Regions from separate parts of the Homo sapiens genome. Here region 2 is linked to region 1. Evidence: fine-mapped expression QTL. A gene starts in region 1. The other region holds a variant in brackets. All regions are shown on one strand. Distances are between the middles of the regions.

Region 1 (15,194 bases):
TATGAATAAAGCATCTTTAAAGAAAACATTTCTGGCATGGCCTTACATAAATACAGAAAATCTTCTTAACTAAAATATCATTAGGGGCCGGGCACAGTGGGTGGCTCATGCCTGTAATCTCAGCACTTTGGTAGGCTGAAGTGGGTGGATCCCTTGAGACCAGGAGTTCAAGAACAGCCTGGCCAACACGGCGAACCCCATCTGTACTAAAAATACAAAAAATTAGCCGGGTGTACTGGCGTGCACCTGTCGTCCCAGCTACTCGGAAGATTGAGGCATGAGAATCGCTTGAACTCGGGAGGCGGAGGTTGCAGTAAGCCAAAACAGCACCACTACACTCCAGCCTGGGCCACAGAGTGAGATTCTGTCTCAAAAATGAAATACAATACAATAAAATAAAATCTCATTAGGGACCTGTTAATGACTACCTATATCACTAAACTGTTGAGGGATATTTAGCAAGACATGAGGGGTGTGATCACCATAATGACTGCAGGTGCTCCATTTCAGCTCAAGGACTTTCAGGTGATATCACCAGGTTTCAGAGTGAGCTGGCCCTCTCATTGTAGTACTGGGGTTACACACCTTTTACCTTAAGTTACAACAACTAGAGAGCTCTGTCTTCCCCTTGAGGCCACCTGTGTGACCTCACACCCCAGATCTGTTCTCAGAGGTGTACAGCTCTTGATAGTCAACCTAGACAGGAATGATCAGGCCTAAGAAAATGCTTCTCTTACAGGAGATTCAGGAGTGACAGATTATAGAAATGCCATTACCGTAAATAACGCATCTTGGCTCGAAGGCAAGTAGCACTTCAAATTCTCTATGGATGCCTCTTGAATTTAAAAATCAGACAATGTGGTCACCATATCCAAATGTTTTTTAAAGAAAACCTTTAAGGTACTCCAGGCCTAAAGCCCTCACATTCTGAGGAGCCCCTTCAGAGACTCCTGCCTTCTTCAAGGGTCTAATTTTCAATTGTTGTGACTGAAGGCCAAAACCATTCATGTCTAGAATGGCTGCATGGGTCTTGACCCAAAGTTCAGATCAGTGAACCAATTTCATAGTTTCTATAGCAGTCGAATTCACACAAAGTGATCTTGGGAGCCCCTCTAGTCAGCGAGTTTTCTAACCGTTCCATAGATGCACCCGCCCCCGCCCCACCCCCGACATTCTGCTCTGAAAGATGTAATCACAATCTACTGTGACCCTCTGAGTTGGCTTTGCAAGCTCATCCCAGAAAAAAGCTATCCCTCTTGGACATTACTTGGAAGAATTTTCAACCATGCCAGTGCCAAAGTTGTGAGCAGGTGGCACTGACATGCTGAGTATTCTGGGAGTCGGCTTTGGCCTTGAAGGAAGATTACAGGGGCCACATGGGTCCTATGCCACAATTTAAAACGGAGTGTGGGGGATGTGTCAGGATGAACAGGGAAGAATAGGGTGGGGAAAGTCAATTATAGCACCAGTAAAAGGGACCTTTTTATGTTCAAATGAGGTTAATGGGAGGAATTTTGATGCCAAGATATTTTTAAATATTCATTGAAAAATCAGTACGAATCTCTTTTTTTCCCCAAAAACTATTGTTCCACCAACTTTGTGGGTAGCCAATTACAATCTTAAAAAATGCCCAAGTATTGCAAATCTTTTCTGGTTTCTCTATAATTAGTTGCTAGGATCAACAAAGAAGAACTTAGGAAGCTTAATTTAATTTTCAGCAGGAATCTTAATAGAATAACAACAACAAAAAAAATAACAGGGGTGGGGAGCAGAGACAACACAATAGAAAGAGTGCTTTGACCCCTCAGCATCAAACAATAAAGCAAACAAAGGCGCTTGGAGCTGGTCTGGCCCTGGCAGACAGCCATTTTTGTCTTTGAAGCTCTCAGTGATCTTGTTGAAATACATCTTCAAAAACAGGAAATTGTGTGATTTTGATTTTCTGGCAACCTCGCCCTTTCTTGTGAACTGCCAACCAGACCATGAGCTGTTAACTTTGATTTACACTAAAATAGGATGGAGGCAGAAACAAAAGTATTTCCTTCTCACTTAAATCTCAAGATTTTCAGAAGCAGTTATAAAGCTAAGTCATTTCTGCTCATTAATGTGCCCAACAAACATTGCTGAAATGAGGCCTGTATAAAGGATGGAAGTGCATTTAGCTTTAGTTTTGCTTTGCAGCTAGAATGGGGAGGAAAATTCACCTTGATGAGAATAGAAAGTGGTGACACTTTGCATGAAAGTTGTATACATAGCTCTTAAAATTCAGTGGGTGATGACGCATACACTAGGTAATTAATAATTCCGGTAGACACTTCTGCTTTGTCAGAACAAGAAAGCAAATGAACATAGAAATGTAATGGAATGTCTGTTTCTCCATCTTTATATCAAGGGAGTTGACCTAGAACAGTGGTTGACAAACTTTCTCGAAAGGGCCTGATAGTAAATATTTTTTACTTTGCTGGGCAGGCAGTTTCTGTTACAACTACTCAACTCTGCTACTGTAGTGTAAAAGCAGCCATAGACAAAAGAGAGAAAAAATAGGCATAGCTGTGTTTCAATAAAACTTTATTTACAAGCATAGGCAGCTATGTAGATTTGGCCCAGGGGTTGTAGTTTGTTGACCCCTGGTCTAGATGATTACACTTCATACTCTCTGTGAAAGCATAATTTTGAGAGACAGAAGAGAAGAAAAAACACCAGCTTGTTCTTTCTCTCTCTGTGACCACCAATTCCTTTTCCTCAACTTATATTCTAAAATGTCCTGGCCCTGGAGGGAGGAACCCTCTCTCTCCCTCTCTGCCTTTCCATCTTTTTTGTTTTGTTTTGTTTTTGAGACGGAGTTTTGTTCTTGTTGCCCAGACCGGAGTGCAATGGCACAATCTTGGCTCACTGCAACCTCCACCTCCTGGGTTCAAGCGATTCTCTTGCCCCAGCCTCCTGAGTAGCTGGGATTACAGGCACGTCCCACCATGCCTGGCTAATTTTGTATTTTTAGTAGAGACGGGGTTTCTCCGTGTTAGTCAGGCTGGTCTGGAACTCCCAATCTCAGGTGATCTGCCCGCCTTGGCCTCCCAAAGTGCTGGGATTACAGGGATGAGCCACTGCGCCCAGCCCCCGCCTTCATATCTTTTATCCACTGCAATCTGGTTTCTCCCTACATCACACTTCAGAAACTACCAGGCAAAGACCTTGGGTACCCTCGTGATGGTCAAATCTTATGGTGGCCATCCAAGCCTCAACCTTCTTCATCCCTCTGAGGTCTTTGAATTTACTGAACTCTCCACAACTCTAAAATCTCTGTCCTCTTCTGTCTCTGGACTCAACTCTCCAGCTTGTCCTCCTGTCTCTTCAGTCTGTAGTGCTGGCTCCTTTTCCTTTATCTCTGCCAGGTTCAGCTTTAGCCCTTTCCAGTCCCAATCTCCGTGAGAGCCATTGACCATCTCCTCTCTCATGGTATTTACTTGACATTGCTAGCCTAACTGCACCTTCATCTGCCCATGTCCCTGAGCTGAGAGTCTTGGAGGCATCTTTAACCCCTCATTTTTGACCTGCAAACTGCTATGTTCCCACGTCACCAATTCCCTCACCCCTCCCCCACACCTTGAGTCAGTCCCTTGTCATCAATTGGTTGTAAAATGTCATCAGTTACCAGTCTCCCTCCACTGAAGGACCCAGATAGTCACTTAGATGATGAAACAAAGTTTTCTTAAAAAATTGAAATCGGAAGCTAATTAATAGTCAGGCGTGGTGGCTCATGCCTGTAATCCCAACAATTTGGGAGGCTGAGGCAGGGAGATCACTTGAGGTCAGGAGTTTGAGACCAGCCTGGCCAACATGGTGAAACCCTGTTTCTAATAAAAATACAAAAATTAGCCGGATGCGGTGGCACATGCCTGTAATCCCAACTACTCGGGAGGGTGAGGCATGAGAATTGCTTCAACCTGGGAGGCAGAGGTTGCAGTGAGCTAAGATCGCACCACTGCATTACAGCCTGGGCGACAGAATGACATTCTGCCTCAAAAAAAAAAAAAAAAAAAAAAAAAGGAAACTAATTAATAAAAAAGCTATTTGAAAAGAGTAGGGCAGTGGAATGTAGAGAGGTGACATCCAGGGCCACTGCATGACATTAATAAGCTATAGATGCATTTTCCTTCGTGAAGCCTTTCCTCCACTAAAAAAATAATAATTATATATATAAAATAATACATTAAAAAATTATATTTTGTGACTCTGTTAGTATAAAGATAATATAATCCATACTGAATTATATTAATATTTTCCCTTGTTATTTTTAAGAGAAATTGAAGTAATTTTGTGGTCCCTCAACTCTGTGCCTAAAGGAGAAGTCAGTCCTGTAGATATTGGTCAGATGCTGATAAAAGCACAAAAATTCTTTTTAAGAAATCTAATAATGTCAAATATTTCCCATGTTAAGCTGTTTATCTCTCTTTTAAAGAAAAATATAATGTCTACCAACAAGATTAAAAATGTTGATGTAAGTATCGGAATTATAGTTATCCATATAATATAATATTTGGTGGCACTATTAGATACCAAAATAAGGATGAGAAAATAAATATTGATATGCCCTGTTTGTGCTTTAATAATAAAGTGAAAGTCAGCTATTACTCTTTCGGTTACCACTACAGAACATATCGATCTCAAATAAAAACACTATAGATCTTCCATTCTATAAATCTCTTGAATATGTTGCATCTTATTCCGACTCATTTGATTACTTCATTGGTTCATCCAGCAAGCATTTATTAAGCACAAACCTTATGCCAGGAATTGTGCTAGGTCTGGCAATACTCTGTGTAAGTATGGTACCTTTTATTATAACTGTGACATTTACTGCTATATTAATAGGCCTATTGTTAGATCATTCATAAGTTGCCATTCCCACACAGTTGCCTCAATTATCCATGACAACAAAGATAAGCCATAAGCCATGGTTACAATAATGTGAAAGTGATTGGAACTTCACCTTAAAAGGTATTTTGTGGATCCTTAGTGGGGTGGAGGAGGGTGGGATTACAAGGAAAGGGTACTGGTATGTCTTGTTAATGATTAGGCTTGTATGGCACATCAATTCCATTCTGCAAGAGCAGGAAAGATGAACAATGTGTTAGGCTTGAGTTTCTCAAACAAGGGGTTTTGAGAAACATAGGGCATTATTAATTTTATATTAAGGCAACCTATTAAGGATCTGAGGCAACTCCTTGTCTTGGGCTTGTTGTTAAAGGTTCAAACTCTTAATTAAATGCATGACCTTGTATAATGAGTTTAGTTTTCAAATTTAGAATCTCTCTCCTCTCCCAGATTGCTGGGAGGAACATATGGCCATGTATATAATGTGCCTGGCACAAAGGGAACACTCATTGAATGTCAGCTCTTCATTTGCTGGAGCCAATCCAACATGTAACATCAACAGTTGACTCAGATGTACTCTGGGATAAATTGTTGTGCAGTTGTCTGTCTTACTCAGGGCATGGGCACAGAGTGCAAAAAGGAGATTACTCTAGCTAAGAAAGCCCTAGCTAATCAAACAGTTACCATAGACCACGGTGTGTCAATCTCAACACTGTTGGCATTGGGAGCCAGATAATTCTTTGTGGTGGGGCTGTCCTGTGCATTGTAGGATGTTTAGCAGCATCCCTGGCTTCTACCCACAAGATTCCAGTAGCACCCCCATCCCCAGCTATAAAAACCAAAAATACCTCCAGACATTGCCAACTGTCTCCTGGGTGGGGGGTAAATCGCCTCCAGTTGAGAACACCAACTTAGATGATAACCTTCAGTCCTGGAGACCTGGTAGCTTGTCCTGAGAATCAAAGGAAAGAAGGTGAGTGAAAATGAAATTACCTGGTGGCTTGTAAAGTCCAAACCCTGGAATTCTCAGTGCTGCCTGCACTTTTCTATCATCTGGGGAGATTTCACCGTCCTGAGGCCCAGGCCAAACTCCAACACAGTTAATCAGAAACTTAGTGGGTAGGATGGAGGCAGCAGTGTGTTTTGAAATTTCCTGAGTGATTCCAGGAGACGCCAGGGTGGGGCCCCTCTGCTCTAAGCTGAGATGTAATTCTCAGGACTGGGTGGTAGACTTTGCCATTTGATGAGAGGGTCTGAGCCTATGTCTCTACATGTATGCACAGCATTAATTCACGTATAGCAAACACAGCATTTGCTGACGGCCCACCATGTGCCAGCCATGGCGCTGAGTGCTGGAGAAGCAAAGTTGACAAAGACCTGCCCTTGAAGGAATTATAATCTAATTGGAGAGAGTCTTGAAAAGCCCACTGAGAAGGGCCCTGATAGAGTTTGCACAGAGAAGATCATAGGTGAGGGTATTTGTGCAGAGTACATCAGATAAGCCTTTCTGAAAGACATGAATGTTTTCATTCATTCTTAAACAGCTGGAGCCTAGAATTTGCTGCTTCATTCGAGTATAAACTTTTGCTAAGAGTCTAAGAATTGGAGAAAAGGCTGAAATGTGAATGAACATGAAGCCCTCAAACGTCTGGAGGATTATCAGCAGAGAAACTTCCATCTCCTGTGCTACCAGCCCTGTCTGATAAATGAGCAATTTGATTGGCTATTAGAGCGTAAATCACTAATTCAGGCTACAGAGTATGGATGTATACAGTCTTTAACCCAGTGATCACATCTTAGATTTCTAGATGTTTTCAAAATGAACAATTGTTGTTGCCATTTGATGAGAGGGTCTGAGCCTATGTCTCTACATGTATGCACAGCATACATGTTGTTTTCCAACATTTTATTATTAGAAATTTCAAATACACAGAAAAGTTGAAAGAATTTCATGGAAAACATTCATGTTCCCATCACCTAGATTCTATCATTGACATCTGGCCATACTGTTGTTGCTTATCACATATCTAGCCATCTGTTTGTCCCTCTGTCTGTCTATGAATCCAAGCAGTGCATTTCTTTCAGTTAGTTCTTAATGACAGCAATAGAAGAGTGAGGGCTGCTTTGAAAATTGGTGTTATTTCTACATTTGTTATGAAGCATTATCCTTACTTGTCAGTCAATTCACATAGGGTGGAGTAGGGTGTTGGGGGTAGGAGGGGGTTACACCTCCAGTTATTAGAAACCAATTCTCTAAATTAAAGTACTTATTCTAATAACTCTTGAGAAATCTCCTTTAAATTTGCTTAAACATTTCCTGTGGTCTTTGTAGATAACCTCTAGTGGGAAAAAAAAAAAATTGAAGTGACCATGTTTGCCCTAAAGGCTTTGGTTAGTTCACAAAACCTGTTTCCGCAACCCAGAGTTGCTTCAAATAGACTTCCTCCCTTTACAAAGGCTTAATGATTTGTGTATTGAGTTGTTTCTTTCTGGGAGACATCTCACAAATACTCCAGTTGGGAAAAAGAGATAAATTGCTCCATCCAAAGTTTAAAAGAATTTCTTCAGGGTTTTGTAACTTGGACACTTGGTGTTCTGAAAAGAATGTCTTTGTGCCTATTTAAAATTGCAGAATCCTTTTCAGTTTGTTTCTAGGCTGTTATGCCAAAGAAGTAGCTCTGTAATCCCCATTTGTCTTCACCTGACATCAAATTCCACTTTGTGATGGAGAATTGTTCCTTGATTTGACATTCTTTTAAAGAAAAATGAGCCAGCATTGAATTCTTAGCTGAATACCAGTAGTTGGTGTATGTGTGTATGTGTTTCCAATTATAGACAGAACCTGGTATAGTACTTTCAGCTGAAATCTTTGATGAAGCATATGAAAATTACATTGATCCAGATGGGATAGAAAGCTGTAAGACTGGTTGCACAAAGCCCTCTGCAAGATTTGTCTTCTTTCTTAATGTTACACATCTTAAGCTCGAAAGAGAGAGAAACCTGAAGCAATCATGGCTTAAAATTCCCCAAGATGTCTCATTGGCTAATTTGGGTACCAAGTAGATTGTGGGGAAATGGGGACAGCTGGTGGTATTTAGTGTCAGTAATTAGGGATTCTCTTTAGGTTATAGAGAACTCTTAGATATAAAGGTGAGCTGCCTTGTCAGGGAAAGATGGCTTCCAACCCAGCTGTGGAAATAATCGGGCTGGGCACGATGGCTCAAGCCTGTAACCCCAGCACTTTAGGAGGCTGAGGCGGGCGGATCGCTTGAGCCCAGGAGTTGCAGACCAGCCTGGGCAACATAGTGAGACCTCATCTCTGCAAAAAATAAACAAAATTGGCCAGGAGCGGTGGTTCATGCCTGTAATCCTAGCACTTTGGGAGGCTGAGGCGGGCAGACTGACTGAGCTCAGGAGTTCGAGACCAGCCTGGGCAACACGGTGAAACCCTGTCTCTACTAAAATACAAAAAAAAAAAAAAAAAAATCAGCCAGGCGTGGCGGCGTGCGCCTATAGTCCCAGCTACTTGGGAGGCTGAGGCAGGAGAATTGCTTGAACCAGGGAGGCAGAGGTTGCAGGAAGCCGAGATCGTGCCACTGCACTCCAGCCTGGGGACAGAGTAAGACTCTGTCTCTAAAAATAAATAAATAAATAAAATAAAATTAGCTGGGCATGGTGGGACATGCCTGTAGTCCCAGCTACTTGGGAGGCTGTGGTGGGAGGATCCCTTGAGCGCGGGCAGTTGAGGCTACAGTGAGTAGTGATTACACCATTGCAGCCCAGCCTGGGTGACAGAGCAAGACCCTGTCAAAAAAAAAAAAAAAAAGAAAAAAGAAAAATGAAAGAAAAGAAATGACCACATCATGAGAAATCTAGACATAAAGTCTTTAACTTTGTATATCCACTGCAGAATCATGCAATGCCCAGTGTGAGGGAATGGAGTAGGATAGGAGAAAACTACCTGCCCCTGCTGGGAGTCAACAATTTTCTTAGATAAAACATAAAAGCACAATCCATTGATAAAAAGGATGCAGCTGGGCGTGTTGGAAGCACACAGGACATGGGAGGGAGCCTGGGCTCCACCCGCAGGGTGATGGCCATTCCACCCAAAGGGGCAGGAGTGGCTGGAACGAGCCTGGGGGCAAGGTCCTAGGCCCCGTTCACTTGGCCTCCATTCCTTAGGGCAGGGTCCCCTGGCACTCACCACTCCCGAGTCCTTGCTTCCTTCACCAGGATGAGGAGCTGGAATATCGTGGGGACAGAGGCCTCAGAGAGCCACCCAATGAGTCCACAGCAGCCATGGACAGTCCGTGAGGGGGAGGGTGTGCCTGCAGGGGGCGTGGCCCCATGCCGCCCGCCACCTGCATGCGCACTGGGCCGACCAATCAGCGAGGAGCGCGGGCAGCCGGGGCGGCTGCTGCTCTCGTGAGAACAGAGGACCCAGGCCCTCGGAGGAGCTTCGCGGTGCCAGCCTCTGCAGGTCCTCTGAGGGAGCAACATCAGGGCTCCCTCAGGTGAGACGCCCTCGGTGGGGATGCGGGGAAGGCGGGCCAGAGGCCCTTTGGGGAAGAGGGTGTGAAGGGCGGGGCAGCCAGGCTGATCTGTGAGGAAATGGCCCAGGCATTGTCGCCTGGGGCCTGGGTCAGGGCAGGGAGTTGGAGCTGCCTGAGTGGTCCCCAGGACCCAGGAGGGTCCCGGAGGCCTGTGCATGTGTGCAGCGTTTGGGGGGGGGTCGGGGGGTCAACGTGGGTCCGTCTTGTCTGGCTGCCCATCAGGACGGGATACTTGGGGTCACCAGGGGTCCCCTGGGCGTCCAGGCTGGCGAATGGGCAGTCCCTGCCCCTGTCAGAAACAGGTGCGTACCGGCTCATTCCCATGGAGATGGCTGGGGAGATCCTGTGTCACCCCGCGGCCCTCCCGACTCCACTGGGTCGCTGGGGAACCCAGGGGCAGGGCCAGGCTCTGTCCCAAGGGCACTGCAAGAATCCCGCAGAGGCCGCGGAATTCTGCGAGCTCTGCAGCCAGCCCCGGGGAAGCGCTGGACGGGCCAGGACAGGAGGGGATGATGGCATCTTCTCCGCGTCCCCTCCTGCTCCCACGGGAGACCCGGGGCGCCCTTGAACCTGCGATCCTGATGATTTTCATTTAACACGCCTCGTTTCCTTAGTGTCCTTAGTGTGTCTTTGCACTCACCAGGTTCAGAGGTCGCCTCTAGCTTCCCAGGCCAGTCAGCCACGGAGCCCGTGGGCAGGAAGGGCAGCAGGATGGCTGCCAAGGACCAGTTGGAGGTTCAAGTTATGGCCGCCCAGGAAATGGAGCTTGCAGGTAAACACAGCCCAAGGGGACCTAGAAGAAGGTGCACGCCCAACAGTCTGTCTGCTTTCTGGGCGGGGCGCACATGGGCAGCCCGAGGCCCCCGGCCCCTTCGTGGCTTTGGAGCTCACCGTGCATGTGCTGAGATGCCCCAGGTTTTCAAAGCAGGCTCAAGGGCCTTAGGCTTCCCGTGGGAGGCTCCCCCTCATAGCAGGGTTACAGATGCTCTCAGAGCAGCTCTTCTCCATGGATGCGGTCCTGACATCCAAGGGATCTGACCTGTGAACGTTGTTTACTGGGACTTGAACCCGAAGGGCTTCCAAAAATGCCTCCGTAAAATGGTTAGGAGCCGGCGATTCCATGTATAGCTCTGCGGTAAAGCTTTAATTGGCGGAGAGCCAAAAAAGTCTACAAATAGTACGTTTCTCTATGAAAAATGTCCACAACAGCGTCTTCCTCTAAAAAAGGTTTGTCTTTTTTATTTTAATGCAGGAAAGGATCCAGTAAGTCATGAGCATGAGGAAAGAAAACCTGTTACAGAGACAAAGGAGGGAGATGTAACTGATGAGCATGGGGAAAGAGGATCTTTTGCTGAAACAGATGAACACACGGGGTAAAGTGTTTAAGTCCCTTTTGCCTGTCAGATAAGGTCTTTTAGGAAAAGTCAGCTTTGGATCATGTCATCACTGTTATGTTCTATGCAGAACATTTCACACAAGACATTTCTTCCCAACAAACAAGGCCTTTTGTGTAGCATTATGTTAAAATTGTGTTGCAACTTTTTGTTACAGGGTTGATACCAAGGAGCTAGAAGATATTGCAGGTATGTTTTACGAGCTATTTGTGGTTTATGAAAATTGTTTTCAACCATACAACCCTTACAGTAGGTTATATGAATTAGTGGATGACAAGACTGTCTTAAATGCCTTCTTCTCATATATAGCATTTAATGTAATCTGTTTAATAATTTTTCTTACTTACTTTTTTAATTGTTGATGTGGAATGTGAGAATGCTTCTAATAATGGTGAAGCAAGAGGGGTGGCTTTTCTTTCATACACGTGGAAATTTAATTGTTTGGGGGATATTAGAGGACATTGGAGGAGAAACAGCTCTATTCGTTCCTTTCAGTGTACACACATTAAGTCATATATCAGGTTTTTTTTTAGCTTTTACTTTATGTTTGGGGGTACATGTGCAGGTTCGTTATATAGATAAATTGCGTGTCACAGGGGTTTGGTATACAGATTATTTTGTCACCCAGATTATAAGCATCGTACCTGATGGGTGGTTTTCCATCCTCACCTTCCTCCTACCCTCCAACCTCAAGTAGGCCCAGGTGTGTGTTGTTCACCTCTTCCTGTCCGTATGTACTCAGTTTTTAATATGAGTTTTTCATCTTCCTAATTTAGCTATTGTCACAACTTTCTAATTTTGTTTTCTTTAAAGTACCAGAGAAAATTGAATTCTCTAAAATGATGATTTTCTATTATTATTCCAGTAACAAGCTGTGTAGTAGAAAAGGAAAGACAACTTTTCTACCCAGTGAGAAGCATACAATTGGATCCAAAAACTCATAAACTTTATATTGCCATGTGAAATATTAGTTGCACTGTTATGGGACCATATTTTCAAAAAAGTTTGAGAAAATTTCTGTAGAGATTATGAAGACAATACTCTTATTTTTAAAAAGCTTACTTTAGTTTTCAGCTCTTCTATAGCGATAATTCATATAAGCAGTATATTTGGAAAGCTTTGCTCTGCTTGGTGGTGACAAAGTGCCGGTTTTGTCTAATACAATGAGCATTATAGATGGATACTGTATGTAAAAAAATTTGTATTATGGTGCAGCTCTTTTATGATTGCTCAAAACTATTCTCAGCAATTGATGGTAGATCTCTCATGTGAAACCATGTTTAGGAAAGCATTCCTTGCAGTATTACAGTTTTCTGAAACACTGCACTGTGGATAAAAATGTCATATAAAAAGCTCTCAGAAAATATTTCAAATGTGTTTTGAATGTATTTATCTATTTAAACCTAAATGTTTACACCCATGGACATTGCTTCTTTTATTAAAATATAGTTAATAGCATCAACTATTGATTAAAAATACTTTCTTTATTGTGTATTAAGTTATTTCTACCCTTTTGATGGTCTTATTAAATCAGATACTTTTTTGTGCTTTACATAATGAGTTGTGACAGTATTTCACGGAAACATGTCCTTTGAATTGTAGGACATTTTATAAATGTAGAAATTAAAGTCTGTGGCTGGGCACGGTTGCTCACACCTGTAATCCCAGCACTTTGGGAGGCCGAGGTGGGTGGATCACGAGGTCAGGAGATCAAGACCATCCTGGCTAACACGGTGAAACCCCGTCTCCACTAAAAATATAAAAATTAGCCGGGCGTGGTGGCGGGCGCCTGTAGTCCCAGCTACTCGGGAGGCTAAGGCAGGAGAATGGCGTGAACCCGGGAGGCGGAGGCTGCAGTGAGCCAAGATCGTGCCACAGCACTCCAGCCTGGGTGACAGAGCGAGACTCTGTCTCAAAAAAAAAAAAAAAGAAATTAAAGTCTGTGTTTGTAACCCTTTCTGCACACTTAAAAAATAGAAACTTTTAATTATTTGCTTTTTTTCATTATCTGTCAATTAAGTGATTTGCTGTTATACCAACTGAAATTGGAATACTAATACCTGAAAGGTTTTACATAAAGTAAGTAAATCTTGCTTTTTGAAATGATCTTTGCATTTTACATTTTAAATGTCCTTCTGATATTGCTGAACCATCAAGTCCCATATTGATTTTAATATATGCAAAGAAACTACTTTTCAACATGAACATTTAATGCATATTCATTTACTATCTAGCTGACATTAAAGAGCATCTTGCTGCAAAGAGAAAAAGGATTGAAAAGATTGCAAAAGCTTGCAGCGAAATAAAGAACAGAATTAAAAATGTTTTGAGAACAACACAACTAAAAAGGTATGATTGTTGGCTTTTTTGAATAATGATATTTATATCATTTCTTTGTATTCATTGGTGCAAATAATTTCCAGAACTATCCTGTACATATTGGTGTCTCTAGGGAACAACATATTTTACTTGATTGTTCCCTAAACAGGTAAGTTTCTTTAGTTTTATAACCTCAATTTAACAGAATTGAGAGATATTACCTAGAAGCCAATGAAGATGACCTCTTTTTGCCTTCCAGATAAAAAGTCTTCCTGTAAAATTAATGTTTATCCATTTCTAGAAATACGGTAGGTGAATATAAGATAAATGTCTTCAACGTTTAGTCTGTAGATTCTTAACAATATTCAATTATGTAGAAAGGGATAACCTTGTGTTGTAAATAAGTTATTTATTTTAGTTAAATTGTTTTCACTATTCCTTTTAGATCATTGTCGTGCCAAAGTGGAGAAATAGTTAAGTGAAGTATTTCTTTCGGGAAATCTTACGGGATGAATGGCTATGATATTCTTGCACCTCCTTATGAGAACGCATATGTTATTTAGTAAGAAGAAATGAAAAGTAAACTGCTCTTGGAGAAAAAGATTGTTTCTGGGAAATTTATAGTGCAGTAAACCCTCCTTTGTCTTCAGCAGGTAAAGAATGTAAGATAGCTGCTCTAGTAGTCAGTTAGGAAGGGATCCTTTCAGAATGACAGTAACTCATTTCACCTTTTCCCAAAAAGAAGATTTCAGCTGCTATTACTCCCTTGCTACTTTATAGTACAAACTATGTCAAGTCAGTTTTGGTTTGAATAGGATTAATTTTTCATCCCTCTATGACGTATGACCTTGTTACTTATTATGTGTTACAGGCAGAAACGTGATTATAGAATTTCTCTGAAGTTGCCGAATGTCCTTGAAGAGTTCATCACAGATGAGCAGAAAGATGAGGAAGGAGATGGAGAAAAGGAAGAACAAATTGTTGGTATCAGGCTTAGCTTTATGATTAACCTATTGTATCAATGTCTCAGGTAGTAATAGTTCATGCAGAAATCCAGCAAAGAAGGAAGAGAGCATGAGCCCAGAGAGGGTCGCCCATTAGTGGACTCATGGACTAGGGGAATATAATTGCCATGCAGCATTAGGGGTCCAACTGAAGTCAGCATCATAGCGATGAAGAAGTTAAAGTGAACTCAGTTGGCATATTTGTGCAAGAGCAGCTGTAGGGTTGGAATTTCCTGGGTTGGGGTGTAGCCGAGCATGTTGATAGAGGGAGAGTTGGACAGGGCATAGAGGCAGGGATGGGGTTATGATGACTGGCTGTGGAATTTCAGCTGGGGCTGAGTTACCTGAGCACATGGGGGTGGGGCATTGGGCAGTGAAAAGTGCTCCATTCAATAGGCGTCAGGTCCCTACAGACTCCTGAGCTGTAGTACTGAAGTGAGTGACCTACAGTGGCAGGAAGGTAGTGGCTGTATGTTGGGAAGATGGAGAAACAGATGAGTGCAGTGGTCAAGGGCTGCGACTCTGGAGCCCCACTGCTTGGGATCCAATTCCAGTTTGACCATTGCTAGTTCAGGAACCATGGGCATATTATTTATCTCTGTGCTAAAGTTACTTTATATACGAAAGGAGACATGGTGAGGGTACCTATTTCAGAGTTGTTTGGAGGATTAAAGGGTTCCTGTGTAACAGGTTTATTTAAATTTTTCAGGATGCGATCTGACCCATGGTTGCTGTTTATCATTGCTATTATTAATATTATGTAGATACTGCAGTCACTGGGAATGACAAAATTTAGGGGATGACTGTGAGTGCCACGTAGAGGAGAGGAGAACACTATTGTTGGAGATTAGGTCAAGGTGCAGAAAGGCAATCATTAATGGAAGGTTTATCTATGTACATATTGAAATGACCAAGATTTAACAGGTGTTTAAAATCTTAGTAAGAAAGAATGTTTCTTAGTTAATTTCTGTATAGATCTTACCTATCTGTGGTCAACAAATTATAGGAAGGGTCATCAAATACTCTTCATTTGAAATCAAGAATTAAGA
Region 2 (15,194 bases), 630 kb after region 1:
AAACAAGATTGTCTACATTAGCTCAAACTGGGTCACTGATTTCAGGACCCAGTCTTTTCTTTGTATAATCTCTTTCCCATTCCATGAATAATCAGTTTCCAACTGCGAATACTCATCTCTAAGGTTAGGGGACTGCTCTCAACCATCCCTCAGGCCCCTCTTAGCCCTGAAAGTAGAAGATTTGAGGGCCACTGATCTCTGTACTAAGATGGTGCAGAGATCAACCATCTTCTTCACAGGCAATCAGGATCAGTGCAATTCAAGAGGGGTTACTATCTTGTTTCTATAATGTGTCTCTCCTGAAGCCACATTAAAATACTCTGACTGAAAACTACTCCATATTTCTTCCAGAAAGAGGGATCAATCCCTCTAGTCTGGGAATCCCAGTCTTCCTCAAGAGATAGTTATTGTCAAAATGTATTTTAAAATAAATTTGCTCAAGTAACAGTCATAAGACATTCATGATTTGAAAAATAACTTTCTAGAATTTTTAATGGTTTAGTATATATGGAAAATCACCTGCTGTTGAAAGCATACAAAATTACCTATACAAAAGATATCATCAAATCCTCATGAGAGTCCAACTGCATTGCCGAAGAGTATTTACATACACAATTCTCATCACTCTAATGGGAATTACGTGGCTAACACCCTCATGCATCAAAACAAAATAAAGTCCAGTAGAATTTAAGAATAGTAAAGACAGAGTAAAACAACCACACTAAGCAATCAAGACTGTATTGAGTAACAGCACATCAAGGTTTCTCAAGACCTTCTCACTCTAGAAATTTAGGACTGGATCATTCTTTCTTGCGGGGAGTTGCCGCATGCATTGTAGGATGTTTAGCAACATCTCTGGCCTCAACCCACAGGATGTCAGTAGCCCCTACCCACCCTCAGCTGTGACAACCAAAATGTCTCCAGACATTGCCAAGTGTCTCAAAATACCCCCGGTTGAGAACCAATGCATGAGACATAAGAAATATACCAGCTGTTATCTTATCAGGGAATTCTCTTAGATTCCAATGTTAATCTCTATAAAACAAGTTTACTTTGTATCTATAATGTAATGCTTGCAGATTCCCTCAATAGTGACAGGGAACAAGGTTTAGTAGGCCCAGAGCTCTAGGAAAAACAAGAGACAGCACCCTTTTACACATAATTTTTGTTTTGTTTCCACTGACAATGAAGAGAAGGGAACAAGAAATACAACTCTGGTTGGCTGGCAATTTCTGATAACTTTCAAAATTGTTCTGACAAGCAGATAGAAGAACATGATGGAACACAAAGCAAAAAGACTAAACAGGAGGAAGGTGGCACTTCTTTGAGAAATGTGGCCTAACAAAATAAAGGCACAGAAAAAAAATTAAGCACGAGTATAAGCTCAGTAGGTATGTCTGTCTTGTGAAGAAGGCAACACTCTACTTACTTATTTTGTCTTCCTGAATCATGTCAGGAAAAGTGACTAATTCGGTACAAATAATTAAAGCTGTTTAGGAATATTTTTTAAAGAAGGGTTTTTCATATTCAACCTACAGAAAATATCCCTTGGGGGAAAAAAAACTGAATTACTGAGGGATTTAGAGTAAGGCTCGTCTTTGACAAAGCAAACGCATTATAGAAGTAGCATTGCCTTTGCCCCAGTACACAAGATTCTGAAATTATAATCTTTATTTGTAATTCATGTGCCACTGGTGAACAGGGATGCTCAGAAAACTTTCAGATTATTAAAAAATGTTGAAAGCTGTCATATATTTTCATGATGTGGTAAATGGCATAATTATTTCCCAAATGGAGAGACCGGAGCATTTGGGAGATACACGGTCAGTGGTTGCATAGGCAGTAAGTCTAAGTTGAAGTCTGAACTTCAGATAGGCCTTGAACCTCGCTAATCAGAATGTGGTCCCTTGACCAACAGAAAGCAGAAGCCCGGGTCCCACCCTCGATCTATCTGATCAGAGTCTGTATTTTAACAAGATCCCCAGGTCACAATTATGCTCATTAAAGTTTGATAAGCACTGCTCTAGAGATTTCAGTTTTACCATTTAAGATCATATTTTATAGACTCTTTTGTGCCAAGAGAAATATTTTTTGAAAAAGTTCTTTCTAGAGCTTCTTGAGAAATATGAAAAAAGTCTTAAAATGAAGTCCTACTATTCAAGGAATAGCATATTATATACAAAAAGTGACAACAGAAAATGAAATCAATAGAACTAGAATTACAGTGACTAAGTAAAGCCTTCATTGCAGATGTTCTTCAAAGGAAGGGTGTCTTTAGCTGGATAGTTAACATGGGGCAGGAAAAATCAATCTGAAAAGAAATGACAAGGGTCGTATGGCAAGCTCAAAGTAGAACTACTCTATGACCGGTAACCATACCCAAGATAGATACTGCCCATCATTTCTTCACAATGACAAGTTTCGGTCCTTTTGTGCAAATGTACAAAATGCCATGCTACTAGTAACAAGTAATTAAAAACCCGAGATGGCCCCTTAAACTCAAAAGGGCATGATATGTTTTATTTTGAAAGCTTCTTGTTCTTTTCTGTTTTTTTTGTTCCTTTTTTCTTTTCTTGTTTTATACTTAACAGTATAAGACAACATGGTGGTATTTGTTAGTATCTGCTGACAAGCCTAAGCCATCCAGTAGTGTGTGATTTGAGATTATTGGGCACAGAAAGCTTTATTGGGCTTTGTCAGCAGTCCCCACATGCTAACATCATTGCATGAAGTTTATCTAATTTCAAAATGAGTAAAAGTTCAATGCATAAGGTTAAAGAGCATCAGTAACTAGCAGGCAATTAGCTCCATAAATGAAAAACAATGTTATGCAATTGAAAGACAACTGTACAAATCTTTCAAAAGTACAATAACAATAAAGTCAGCCACTGAATTGCAGAGAAAGGAATTTCAGTTACATTGATGAGGTTATTTTTCCCTTGCAAACCTTTCTGCACCCCCACCCTCACTTGGGCAACAATAATACAGTAACAGGAAATATATCAAAAAGGTGGAAGCTTAGAAGCTTAAAGCTCATAATCCCCACAGTGGCAGCCAAAAGCATAATTAAGGAGAAGCACTCATTTGTTTTCCTTCCCTTTAAAACCTAATCTCCTATTTTTCCAAGACCTTTGGGAGGAACTACGATTTAGGGTCAAGTTTTGAACAATGTTTGATTACTGCCAACTGGACCCCATGACCTTATTCAGAATGAAATCATGTACCAACAGATTTCGGGAGTGGGAAATTTTTGTTTTTTATTTTTTATTTATTTATTTATTTATTTTAGACGGCGTCTCACTCTCTCACCCAGGCTGGCGTGTAGTGGCGCGATCTTGGTTCGGCTCACTGCAACAACACTTCAGGAGCCGGAATTTTTAAGAGGTGTTTTGCTCTTCCAAAGCCAGAAAATAATCCTTTCACACAAGGACATCAGGAGCACAAGGTTATAGCCTCTAGACTTTGCTCTTGGAAACCTACTGAGTTTCCACAGGCAGGATATGAAATACCCAGCTGTCAAGAAAACCCTTTCCCCTCAAATTCTCAGCTCAGTTTGAACAAACATGACATATGCGGTCTACTGCCCTTCTCTCCCTCTAGTAAACATGAGCCTCCACAAAAAAGTCACATCTTTCCCATTTTTGGACCTCTTCTGCCTTTTAACAGGTGCAAGCATGAAGAACCAAAAAAAACCTGTGTGTTGTTCAAGTCTCTTGGCAGTTAATCCCCTTCATCTATAACAGATTAAACCAAAAAGCAAGAGGGTTACTTTCAGAGTGGAATTGACTAACTATTTCCCACTTTTATAAAAATGTATTTTCACATTTGTTTCTCCTATATGTTTCACTTCTTACAAAAATGAAGACCGCTTTCTAGCTCACTGTGGAATCCTGGAGAGCTTTCCTCATCCTCTGTAATCATTCTGAAAGCCATTACTTATCCAGTTTCTCCTGGGTACCAGGCACCGAGCTGGGTACCTTATTTGCATTATCTCATTGAATTCTTCAAACAGCCTTTCAAACGATCCTAGTTTATTCATCTGAAAATTTCCCCAATTTTTCAGATGAATAAACTAGGATTGTTTGAACAGCTATTTGAAATAATACCTATGTTCCCCATTTTTCAGATGAATAGGATTGAATAAAGTGAATGTAATAAGAGGAAGACGCTCCCTATTCAGGTTTCAAACCCCAAATATCAAAGCCTACAGCCTGTCTCTAGCGTCCTACACGATATCTGTTTCTAGAAGATGGCTAATAAGCATTTGTTGAACCCAACTGACTTGTAGACCATGGTCGTCTTTGCCAGATAATGAGCTGAGTCCTTCAAGGGAAATGTACCAGATAAGAGACACAGGAGGTGGTGATCATGTGCCCTTTTCTTTTCAAAAGAAGCACGCCCCAAAGCCATACTCACTTATAATTCATGATTAAACACATTAAATGATAATACCGGAAAGGAAATGTTTTACATACCAAAAATGTTTTACATACCAAAATGTTTTACACCCTGTTTTCAAGGATTCAAACATGTTAGACTTTTTTACTTCCTAAGTGTTTGTGGAAATGAAGGTCTGGTGAGAGAAGGGCAAGAGGGAAGAACATAATAAAGGGAGTAAGAATGGACAGCAAGAAGATATCCAAGGCAAGAACCGGAACAGCTTTGGGACACTGCCTAGGTTTACATCTCACTGGTCTCCTTATGTGATCAACTAGAAATTCAGCCCCTGCCCCCCCAGCTTTTTTTTTTTTTTTTTTTTCTTTGAGATAGGGTCTCTGTCTGTCACCCAGGCTGAAGTATAGTGGCCCAGTCATAGCTCACTGCAGCTTGGAACTCCCAGAGGCTCAAGCAATCCTCCCACCTCAGCCTCCTGGGGTAGCTGGGACCACAGGCACACACCACCATGCTCAGCTAATTTTTTATACTTTGTGTAGAGACGGGGTCTTCCTTTGTTGTCCAGTCTGGTCTCAAACTCCTGGACTCAAGCGATCCTCCTGCCTTGACCTCCCAAAGTGCTGGGATTACAGGCTTAAACCTCCACATCAGGCCTTAAATTAAGCCTTTTTATGAAAAAGATAGAAAAAGCCTTTTACCTCCATTGCAAATATTTTAGTTTTTGAGACGTGAGCATGGAAGCCTAACCTACCAATATTATTTGATTAGAACATATGTGTTGTGGTAACTTCTGTAGTTACATTGTCTCACAGATGTGACAAAACAGTTTTCTAAAAAGGATTATTTTGTCATTAGGGTTTTTATAAGTAAAGGTCACATTTGACATAAAAAAATGGAATTACTTTTGGTGACATACTTCTTAGGACAATAACTTTTGATCAGATGTCAATTCCTCACACCCCACCCTCCTCATATATAGATAGAAGACTTAACCTGGTCAATGTGTTGCCAACTCCCATTGCCAATCAGGACGCAGATAGTCTTTCATGCAGGCAGTAGGTGAAATTATATCCATGTCTTCGAACACCTATAAATGCTATATTTTTGTAAGCACTGAAATCACTGCCTTTCTGTGCTCAAGCCACCTGTGATTGTTTGACAAAGGAAAATCAGTAAATCTGCTCACCTTTAAAGTGAAAGATAAATTGAAAAGAAATACGAATTTCCTCATTCGACAAATAGGTACGGAGAGATTGTGGTTAAGTGATGGAGCTGGAAAAGGATGCTGTGAGGATTCTATGACATGTAAGAGAGACAAGGCTGCTGCCCTTCTGAAGGTCACATCAAACATGCGGTTACATGTGTGGATTGACAAACGCCATCACAGAGCACACATAGGGTGTTACAGAAGGCTAGATGTGTGTCAGAAATCTAAACTTGAATATCAACGACCGGTGTTGAGTTAGTCAGCACTGCCTGTGTTCAGGGTAAGAAGGTGTAAATGGGGATGGGGCAGGGATGGTGGCCCAGGATGAAGGATGAAGGATCAGCATGTGTGAGGGGCTGAAGGGGAGAGCCCATGGCAGCATGGAAGCCCTTGGAGCCAGCACAGAATGCCGAGGGAGGGCAGGTGATGAGAGATGCAGCAAGTGAGGTGAGAGGTGGAGGGGACAAGTGTTTCAGGGCCTTGAAGAAATAGTGAATTGATGAGCTCTGTGCCTTGGAAGGATGACCCTGGTGGCACAGTGGAAAACAGGCTAGAAAAGAGCCAGTTAGGAGACTACTGCCATTAGTAGAGACAATGGAGGCCCGGGTGGGACAGTGTTAGAAGTTAGAGAACAGCAGATTGTTTTGAGGATTCAGGACA[C/G]TGATGACACAGAGCTTGGAGATTGCTTGGATATTGTGAAAGACAGTGAGGGTTTAAGACAAAGGAAAGAGTCAAGAATGGTTTCCAAACTTCTGGTATGGGCAACTAGACAGAGTGTGGGCCATGAGAATAGAGATGAAGGAGCAGGCGTGATGGTGACATGATAAGTTCAGGGCGTGTTAAATTATAGGTGCTGGTGGAATAGGCAGGTAGAGGTGTCCCAGCAAGCTGCTCAGTATTTAGGTATGAAGATTGGCAGAAAGATCTGGGCTGAACACAGCTGTCACCAGCCTAAAGACGGTAACGGAAAACAAAGAAGCATGGAGTGTGGGAGGAGGTGAGGGCCCCACAGGTCGTTAACCTTTAAGGTTAGGCAGAGGAAGAAAAGCCCATGAAGGAGATAAAGGAGGAGGAGCCAGGGAGGTAGGAAGAACACCAGTAGTGTACATGGTGTTCCTCTCTGGACTCCTGTAAGTCAGAGGAAAAGCATTTCCAGAAGAACGGTCAAGAACAGTGTGAATGATTCCCAGAAGTCTAGTAAGGACTTGCCCTTGAATTTGGTGTCCTTGGAGCAAATAGGTTCAGTGAACTGATATGGGCAGAAGCCAGATTTGACTGGGTTGGGGAGTTTTAGACCAGCACTTCTCAACCATTTCACCCTCAGGACTCCTTTCCACTCTGAAACATTTTTGAGGACCCCCGAAGAGTTTTTGTGCATGTTGCTTACATCTACCGATATCTAATATACTAGAAAGTAAAACTGATAAATTATTGAAATATTTTTTATGTATTTAAAAACAACAATTCTATTTCATAAGTCATATCTTTTTATAAAACATAACCATATTTTCCAAAACAAAAACATTTGGTGAGAAGAACAGCATCTTTTTACAATTTTGCAGATAGATCTCTTTAATACATTGCTCGACAGATGACAGTGGGTTTTTTCTATCGGCTTCTGGATTCAATCTGTTGCAGTACTATAGGAGACAGGATGCTTTGTCCGAGACAGGAAAAACAACTTATCTTCCACCCTCACAAGGGGGAGGAGGTGATGTAGTATGTGGATATGAGTAAATCAATAGGTTTGGGGGCAGGAGGTTGAGGGACTTTTCATCCAGTAGATTCTACTTTCCCTGCAAGATAGTATCATGATACAGGAGGAGGGAGGGGTCAGCAATTTTAAAAGCATAGGGAATATTAGAGCATAAATAATCAAGTCATTCTTTCTTATTAAGAAATCCAATGAATAAAGTCTCCTTGGATAAACATAACCCATGACATGAAATACCAAGAAAGGTATCTGGGGTGTTAGAAAATTGTGAGGCCTTCTGGGAAACTGAAATTCATGAAGAATTATTTAAGAAGAAGAAACAAAAATAAATGTAACATCTTTGGCCCTTCTGGAGAAAAGCTGAAGAAATGGTGGCTGTTTTCCGCTATTTATAAGCTAGCAACAAGGGAATTATCATAGGATGCAGCAAGAAAGTTCAGTTACATGATTATGTCTGGGTTCTGGGTTCAGCAGCAGTTTTCTTCTATGCTTATCTCAACCTTGTCACATAGAAACAAATTTTATTTACACTTAGAAATACTGATGGATGTGGCCAGGTGCGGTGACTCACGACTGTAATCCCAGTACTTTGGGAGGCTGAGGCGGACGGATCACGAGGTCGGGAGTTCGAGACCAGCCTGACCAACATGGTGAAACCCCATCTCTACTAAAAATACAAAAATTAGCCAGGCATTGGTGGCACGCGCCTGTAATCCCAGCTACTCAGGAGGCTGAGGCAGGAGAACTGCTTGAACCCAGGAGGTGGAGGTTGCAGTGAGCCAAGATTGCACCACTGCACTCCAGCCTGGGCAACAGAGCGAGACTCTATCTCAAAAAAAGAAAAAAAAAAAAAAAAAAGAAAGAAACACTGATGGATGCTCAAATCCCTGAGTCATCGGCTGGGCCTAGAATATAGCTCAGTGTCACCCAATTTCTGCTCTTTCATGCACTAGCCAGTCCACAAGCTGTCTCTATGGTGATGGCAAGGGAATTATAGTCAATGTAAGTGGACAGCCATACAGCCATACTGAGGGGCTGTAAAATCATCCTCTCAAACTTTTTTGAAGTGTTTCTGAATTTTAGAACACGTTATTCCAGCAAGGGTTCTGAACCTTTTCGGTGTCACGAGCCCCATGAGTCTGGTGAAGCCTGTAGACCCCTTCTCAGAACAATGTTTTTGTTGTTGTTGTTGTTTGTTTTTTTTTTTTTTTTTTTGAGACAGAGTCTTGCTCTGTCGCCCAGGCTGGAGTGCAGTGGCACGAACTTGGCTCACTGCAAGCTCTGCCTCCTGGGTTCATGCCATTCTCCTGCCTCAGCCTCCTGAGTAGCTGGGACTACAGGCGCCCACCACCACGCCCGGCTAAGTAGAGACGGGGTTTCACCGTGTTAGCCAGGATGGTCTCGATCTCCTGACCTCGTGATCCGCCCGCCTCGGCCTCCCAAAGTGCTGGGATTACAGGCTTGAGCCACCGTGCCTGGCCAGAACAATGTTTTTAAATGAATAAAATGAATAAAAGCACATAGAATTACAAAGGAAATGAATTACACTGATAATAGATCATCAAGATAATAAAAAAAACTGATAATAAAGTTATCAAATTTTTAAACTAATTTTTTTTTTTTTTTTTTGAGATGAAGTCTTGCTCTTGTCCCCCAGGTTGGAGTATGATGGCGCAATCTTGGCTCACTGCAACCTCCACCTCCTGGGTTCAAGTGATTCTCCTGCCTTGGCCCCCCAAGTAGCTGGGATTACAGGTGCCTGCCACCATACCCGGCTAATTTTTGTACTTTTAGTAGAGATGGGGTTTCACCATGTTGGCCAGGCTGGTCTAGAACTCCTGACCGCAGGTGATCCACTCCCCTCAGCCTCCCAAAGTGCTGGGATTACAGGCGTGAGCTACCGCACCGGGCCAAAACTAAATTTATTATATAGAAATATGTGTGCTTCCTTGGTTAATATATTAAATAGAAATATCTAGCAACATTTTGAAGTGATACTAGTGTAACTGTGTCCAGTATGGTGGTATCTGATGGCAATGCAAAAAGTAGCTTATAGGCTGATGGGATGGCAGATGTATAAAGAGATAAATGAATCGACTGAAGAAATATTAGAGTATGCACTCATGCTATAGAACACATAAGAGTCAGACACGCCCTCCCGGAAGAGGTCTGAGCCGAGCCTTTAAATCTCAAAGGTATTATCCTTATCTATAAATTAAATTGAATTTTTTCAATTAAGTAGGAATAGTCTCTGGATGACTAAGGAAAGAGATTAAGCAAAGATGAGAGAATACCTTCTAAAATTTTTTTTCTGGTGTTCCCAAAATAAAGGATTTTAAAGAAAGACAGACAAAATGTATGGTGTGACTTCCTTTGTAAAGTGGCTAAAGGAAAGGTACAACCAGACAAAGACACAGAGGAAGCATTTTTTGATTTTTAACATGCTAGATACCTTCAAAAATGTTTTTCCTTGCCCACAAGGGAAACAAATCAGCTCTCATCATATGTCCCATCTCTAAAGAGGCAAAAGGCTAAATGAAGGACAGTCATAAGACACAAGTTGAAATATCCTTCGACCACACGACTCCTGTTTTTGAAAATCACAACTTGGAATTGAGTCTTATGAAAATTTATCTCAGAGAAAATGCCACAACTATTAAGAGGAAAAGATCTTACATAAATCGAAAAAGAACGGATTATTAATGCCACAAATTAGAGAGTAATAGAACTGTGTTTAAGAAGTAGCTCCCTGCCTTCAAAGGCTACACCATACAAGTTGTTAATTAACAAAGTAACAATGGATTCCCACAACTGCTGTGGAAGTAGAAACTGATGGCCAGGAAGCCCAGGTGAGGGCATGCTCATTAGGAAATCTGCCATGCCCCTCTAAGAACAAACTTTCCTTTAAGGAATTTAAGGAGGAGAGAAAGCTGCTTTGTGGTCCTTGCTCAATCACTATTTATATCCAAAAAAAGAAAGAAAGAAAAAAGAAGGAAGGAGAAAGGGAAGAAAGGAGGAGGAAGGGCGGAAGAGGTAGAAAGGGAGGAGAAAAAGAAACATAAAATAGAGAAAGAGAAGGAAGGAAAGAGGGAGGGAGGGAAGGAAAGGAAACATTCAGAGCAAAATAGATGCTCACTAAATGTTAGCATTTCCTTAACAGCCTGCTTTTGGCATTGCATCATTTTGCAGGAGACGGACTAGTTCTTTCACTTTAAAATTATCTTATGTGCTGCCCAAAGGTCTCATATTGTCATGAAGAATTCTTGATAATTAGCAAATTTTCTGAAAGTTCAGCATCAGCTGATAATCGCAAATAATACAAATATACCATGGCCTTGAAATAATCAGAATCACCGTAAACAGCAGTGTTAGAAACATATTTCAAAGTGAAAGAATACACTATTCTCAGGAGATAATCACCAACATTCTTCCAAATCCTGATCAATGGAGGCAGCATTTTGCTACATGAGCAATAAACCAGGAAGACTCTGGATATATCATGTATAATGCTGGGCATTATAATCAAACACAACACAGGAAATAATCCCAAGTCTTTAATAATATTAATAATCATATTTAAATAGCAATTGGGTGTTAGTCATACAATTTTAGTATTGGTGAGAGCCTTGTGAATCAATCTCATCCCCCCTATTATTGTTGTCAAAACTAAAACAGTAAAGGAGATAGAAAAACCTAAGGGGGTGTTGGAAGATGAATTCTGGTGCAAAATCCTTTAATCATATTTTTTCAAATATATCAATCAGATTGCTTTCCTCACACTAAGAACTAAAGAAATGAGATTTTTTTTCCAACTGGGGAGGAGAGGATGGATGGAGGAGGTAAGGGTTGCAGGGCTCAGGACTATCTTTTTGAAAACAACATATATTGCCCAGCAATACTGCTTTTCTGATGCAACTTTGGCCACCTCCAGAGATGCTCAGTAGGGCTGTACTTACAACGAAGACCCTCTTAGTCTCAGGATTTATGTGCCTCCACGATGATTCCAAAGGGAGACAAATCAACTAAGAATCAATAATGTTAAATTAATCTTGGGTAAGCCAAGAGTTACATATGTCATCTAGAATGGCTTACATGGAACACCAGGACCCAAATGCAATTCCCTCAACACCCTCCTTATCTTGGTAGTGCTCACCACCTAGATAAAATGTCAGCAGCAGCCTGAACTCTAGACAATTTCCTTCATGGTGTTATCTAAAGGACCACCAAAAAGATGATCAGCTCCCATCCTTCCACAAAAGAAAAACTCTACCACTTAGTATTGAAGCTTTCAATGCAGTGTAGTGATCACGTGTAAAAGTAGAACTATGGAGTCAGACAGAATTGTGTTTGAAAAAGTCTCTCTTGTAACCAACTTGGGAAAATGACTTAATCTCTCTCTGTAGTTGGGGGAAAGATGTAGTGATATGTAAAGCACCACCATAAGGTTCAGAACATAATGAGTTCTCAATAAATGTCAGGTCCTCTCTCTTCTACTGAAGTTGCTCTTTCATTATTTTTGGGCTCCCTCTTCTCTAAAATCCCAACCCATGATGAAGGCTTTCAAGGCCTGTATATACTAATGGCTCTCCGAAACCTAAGATAAGCAGAACCTTGGGTTCCAGAATTCCTTAGTCCTGTCCGTAATAGAAGAATATAAAAATACGTCTCAAGCATCTGCATACTGACACAAAGCATTTTCAGGATGATATCATTGTTGAATTGAGACTTAATTAGTTTTGTGTGAACTTTGGGATCAAATAACATAACAAAATAAATTAACTGAGGCTAAGAAACAACTTTTTCACTTCATAAAAAGCTTTTTAAGTCACTCCAATGAGTCTTTGATTCAAATATAATGAAATTTCATGTTGAATCAATGATAGACCTTTTGAACTGTAATCTGCCAGAAAGTAGACAACTCAAAAATTGAAAATGGGCAGATCAAAGTTACACTGATAGGAATCTGTTAATGAACCATAGTGTGTTGTGTGGATAGGATTAGTGAGGACCTATCTGATTTACTGCATGAGGATATTAATGTGAAAGGTAGAAGCAATGCATATTAAATGATCACTAAGTGCTTCTGAAAGAATGCTTTGTAGCAATAACATTTAAATTCCTTTCATTTAGCCAAGATATATAAAACTGTGGAAATCCCTATTTATAGTCACACAGACCAACACTGGTTTAACAGGGAAGGCCACCATCTCATAACAGTAAATCCATAGCCCTATGGGCTTTAATTGAAAAAAATTATCACCTAGACACTAAATGAATTTGAAAGAAATAGAAGACTGAAATATTGCCTTTTAGATTGCTGACAATTCTGGAGGGTTGTTGGCTGGAAGGGCTGAACATCCCCAAATTGGCACCAGATTTTAAAACAACCTTCCAAGTGGTTTAATTGGTAGGCACACCAGGTCCTCAAACACAAGAATTTGCACATTTAAAGGCTGCCCCACAATGTTCCAGGAACCTAGTCATGAATGCAATAGTCAGTATAACACGTTCTCTTTGTACATTGGACCTGACATTCTTGTTTTAGAAAAGTAACTGAATCTATAGACCACTGGGCCAGCTGTTCTCCATCAGAGTGCACTCCTTCACTTAGCTCCTGTAGCATTTACTTGGTGTAGCTAGAATGCAGGCTCTCAAACCAGACTCACAACGTGGGTTTGAACACTTCTGCCTCTTCCTTTGCCTTTGCATGTTTCAATTTCCTTGTCTGCAAAAATAAATGTAATGATCATATCTAACTCACGGGGTTGATGTTAATATTTGTCTTAGTTTGGATTTCCCTAGAAGGAGACCCCAATACAAAGATTCCTGTGCAAGGGTAAGGAAACTATGCTGGGAAGAGAAAACAAACAGTCAATAAAGAATGGATTATCCAGCCAGCTACCATACTGGGTGACTGGAGCTTAATCCTGCCAGGAAATTCTGGGAATAGTATAAAACTCACATGTCTGAAATATCCCATCTGAGGAGCAAAGGAACTGGGATATCTATATACCGACTCATGTCAATCATTTTTAAAGTGCTCCCAGACAAAAGCATACCGGCTTTAAACAGTTTCAGAAAAATCCCTCCGAGATGCAGAGACTGGCTGCTGGAAGTCATCTAGCATACAATGATGTGGTGTAGCCCTAGAAATGTGGCCAGGGCTGCACAAATTAATGTCCATAAAGTGCATGGCACATACAGTGCCATAAATGTGTGTTTTTTTTTTTTACTATGACTATCAGTATTATTATTTTTACTACCCATGGAGGCATTGGCCAATGCTATTAGATATTTATGTCTATGTCCTGCTACCAGGACCCTTGTTGATGTTCCCGATACAAAAGCTGTTCTATAACATTTGATGCTCATACTCAAGATGATTCAGATTCAACCAGAAAGGCTCAGACTGAGAAATCAGCAGTTATTTGCTTTTGTACACTATGTGCCTATGAGATGAAGTGCAAACCACCACCAACCACAAACACAAATTCCTCTCCCAGGAACCACTGAGTCTTTACTCTCAGAAAAATCCATGCCTCTACCTTTGCTGCCATTATCAGGCATGGCCCTAAGAATCTCACAACAGGCTGTGGCTGAGTTTATTTAATCTGCATGCTATAGAGGTGTTTTATCCAGAAGTGATTATCTTAGGAAGTCAGTTAAGAAGTACTAGACATCACTCCTAAAAGTATCCTGATGCTTGCCAGAATATGGATTAAGAGTTTCCCAAAGGAGATAAGCAAACTCTAAAAATGTCCTCTTCTCAAGCTGCTGCTTTTATGAAATTCCTCATTGGCTACCAAGGGGGAACCTCAGATACTGATCATCTGGAAGCAGCAATCACTTATTGAGGCCACAGAAGCAAGATGACGTCAAATCCATGTATGGAGCATTTGTTTTGTGTAAGATAATTCAGACAATGGGCAATGGGGTAGGTGGTTGTGTGGGAGAAGTAACTAAGGTTTAGAAGACAGATCTGCTCAAGGAATCTGTAGACTCACTAGGGAAAAGTGAATTAGTCACATTAAATACCAATTATTATAGATTTGTGCTTACTTTTGAATCACACATAATGGTAAGAGCAAAATGCTAAAATTTGTCACAAACCATTATGCATTGAATCATCACATGATTAGGCTGAAGTGGCCTGTGAATCAGGCTGCACAGGAATTGAGGCTTTCAAAAGGATATGATGAAGAGACTCCTAGTTGATTACGCAGCAGACATTCTCTCCTTCTTCCAGGTTTTTTCCTAGGGGACAAACTTGCCCAAGTAAAAGACTGTAGTTACCAGGCAGCCTCCCTTCAAGTCAGTGGTATCCAGTGAGTTGTAGACCCTTGGCCTTTTTGCCCTTTTTGACTTCCTTCATTTCTGCCTAGATATGATGTCAGGAGCTTACTAGGTCATCTTGGACCATGCAGTGACACTGACGATGGAAGCCATGTGCTAAGGATGCAATAACAGAGGGCAGAAATAGCTCAGGTCTCGGATGGACTATGGAGCCACCATATTGCATCCTGAGTACCTACCTCTGCATTCGTCTTTTACAAGATGCACATTTCCCACGCTTTAGCATCTTTAACAACAGGATGTCTTATAATCAATGGTGTTTTAAATTGCTCTGCACAAAGCAACAGTTTGTCCTGCACAAGTGTGAACAATGTACTCATTGCTATTTATATGGTCCTCACCTCAACTGAATTACGTCTAGTGCTGATACTACAAATGCTTAGCTTAAATCCCATTTAAATTGTCTTCCAAAAGATTACATCATGATTCAATATTGAAATGGAAAGTTACTGGTACACAGAAAAGCGTGGAAACAGAGCAGTGGGGTGTGAATTGCATATCAGCAAAGCAAATATTCATTGCTGA

What was found.
Region 2: its variant is fine-mapped to the expression of FAM9C in tibial nerve (GTEx, PIP 0.98).

The regions. Positions count from the first base shown.
Region 1 is chrX:13,038,735-13,053,928 of GRCh38, reverse strand. FAM9C (family with sequence similarity 9 member C) reads left to right here and starts at 9,309. Exons shown (of 8, transcript NM_174901.6): 1 at 9,309-9,389; 2 at 10,072-10,200; 3 at 10,681-10,801; 4 at 10,980-11,011; 5 at 13,057-13,171; 6 at 14,013-14,121. The coding sequence starts at 10,140. It overlaps LOC105373133 (a long non-coding RNA gene), which reads right to left and starts at 9,196. Exons shown (of 4, transcript NR_171577.1): 1 at 9,080-9,196; 2 at 5,724-5,827.
Region 2 is chrX:12,411,331-12,426,524 of GRCh38, reverse strand. The region is part of intron 1 of FRMPD4 (FERM and PDZ domain containing 4); the gene reads right to left. Among named protein-coding and RNA genes, the nearest start is that of FRMPD4-AS1, 44 kb to the right of the region's middle. The variant C/G (reference allele first, on the strand shown) is at 6,263.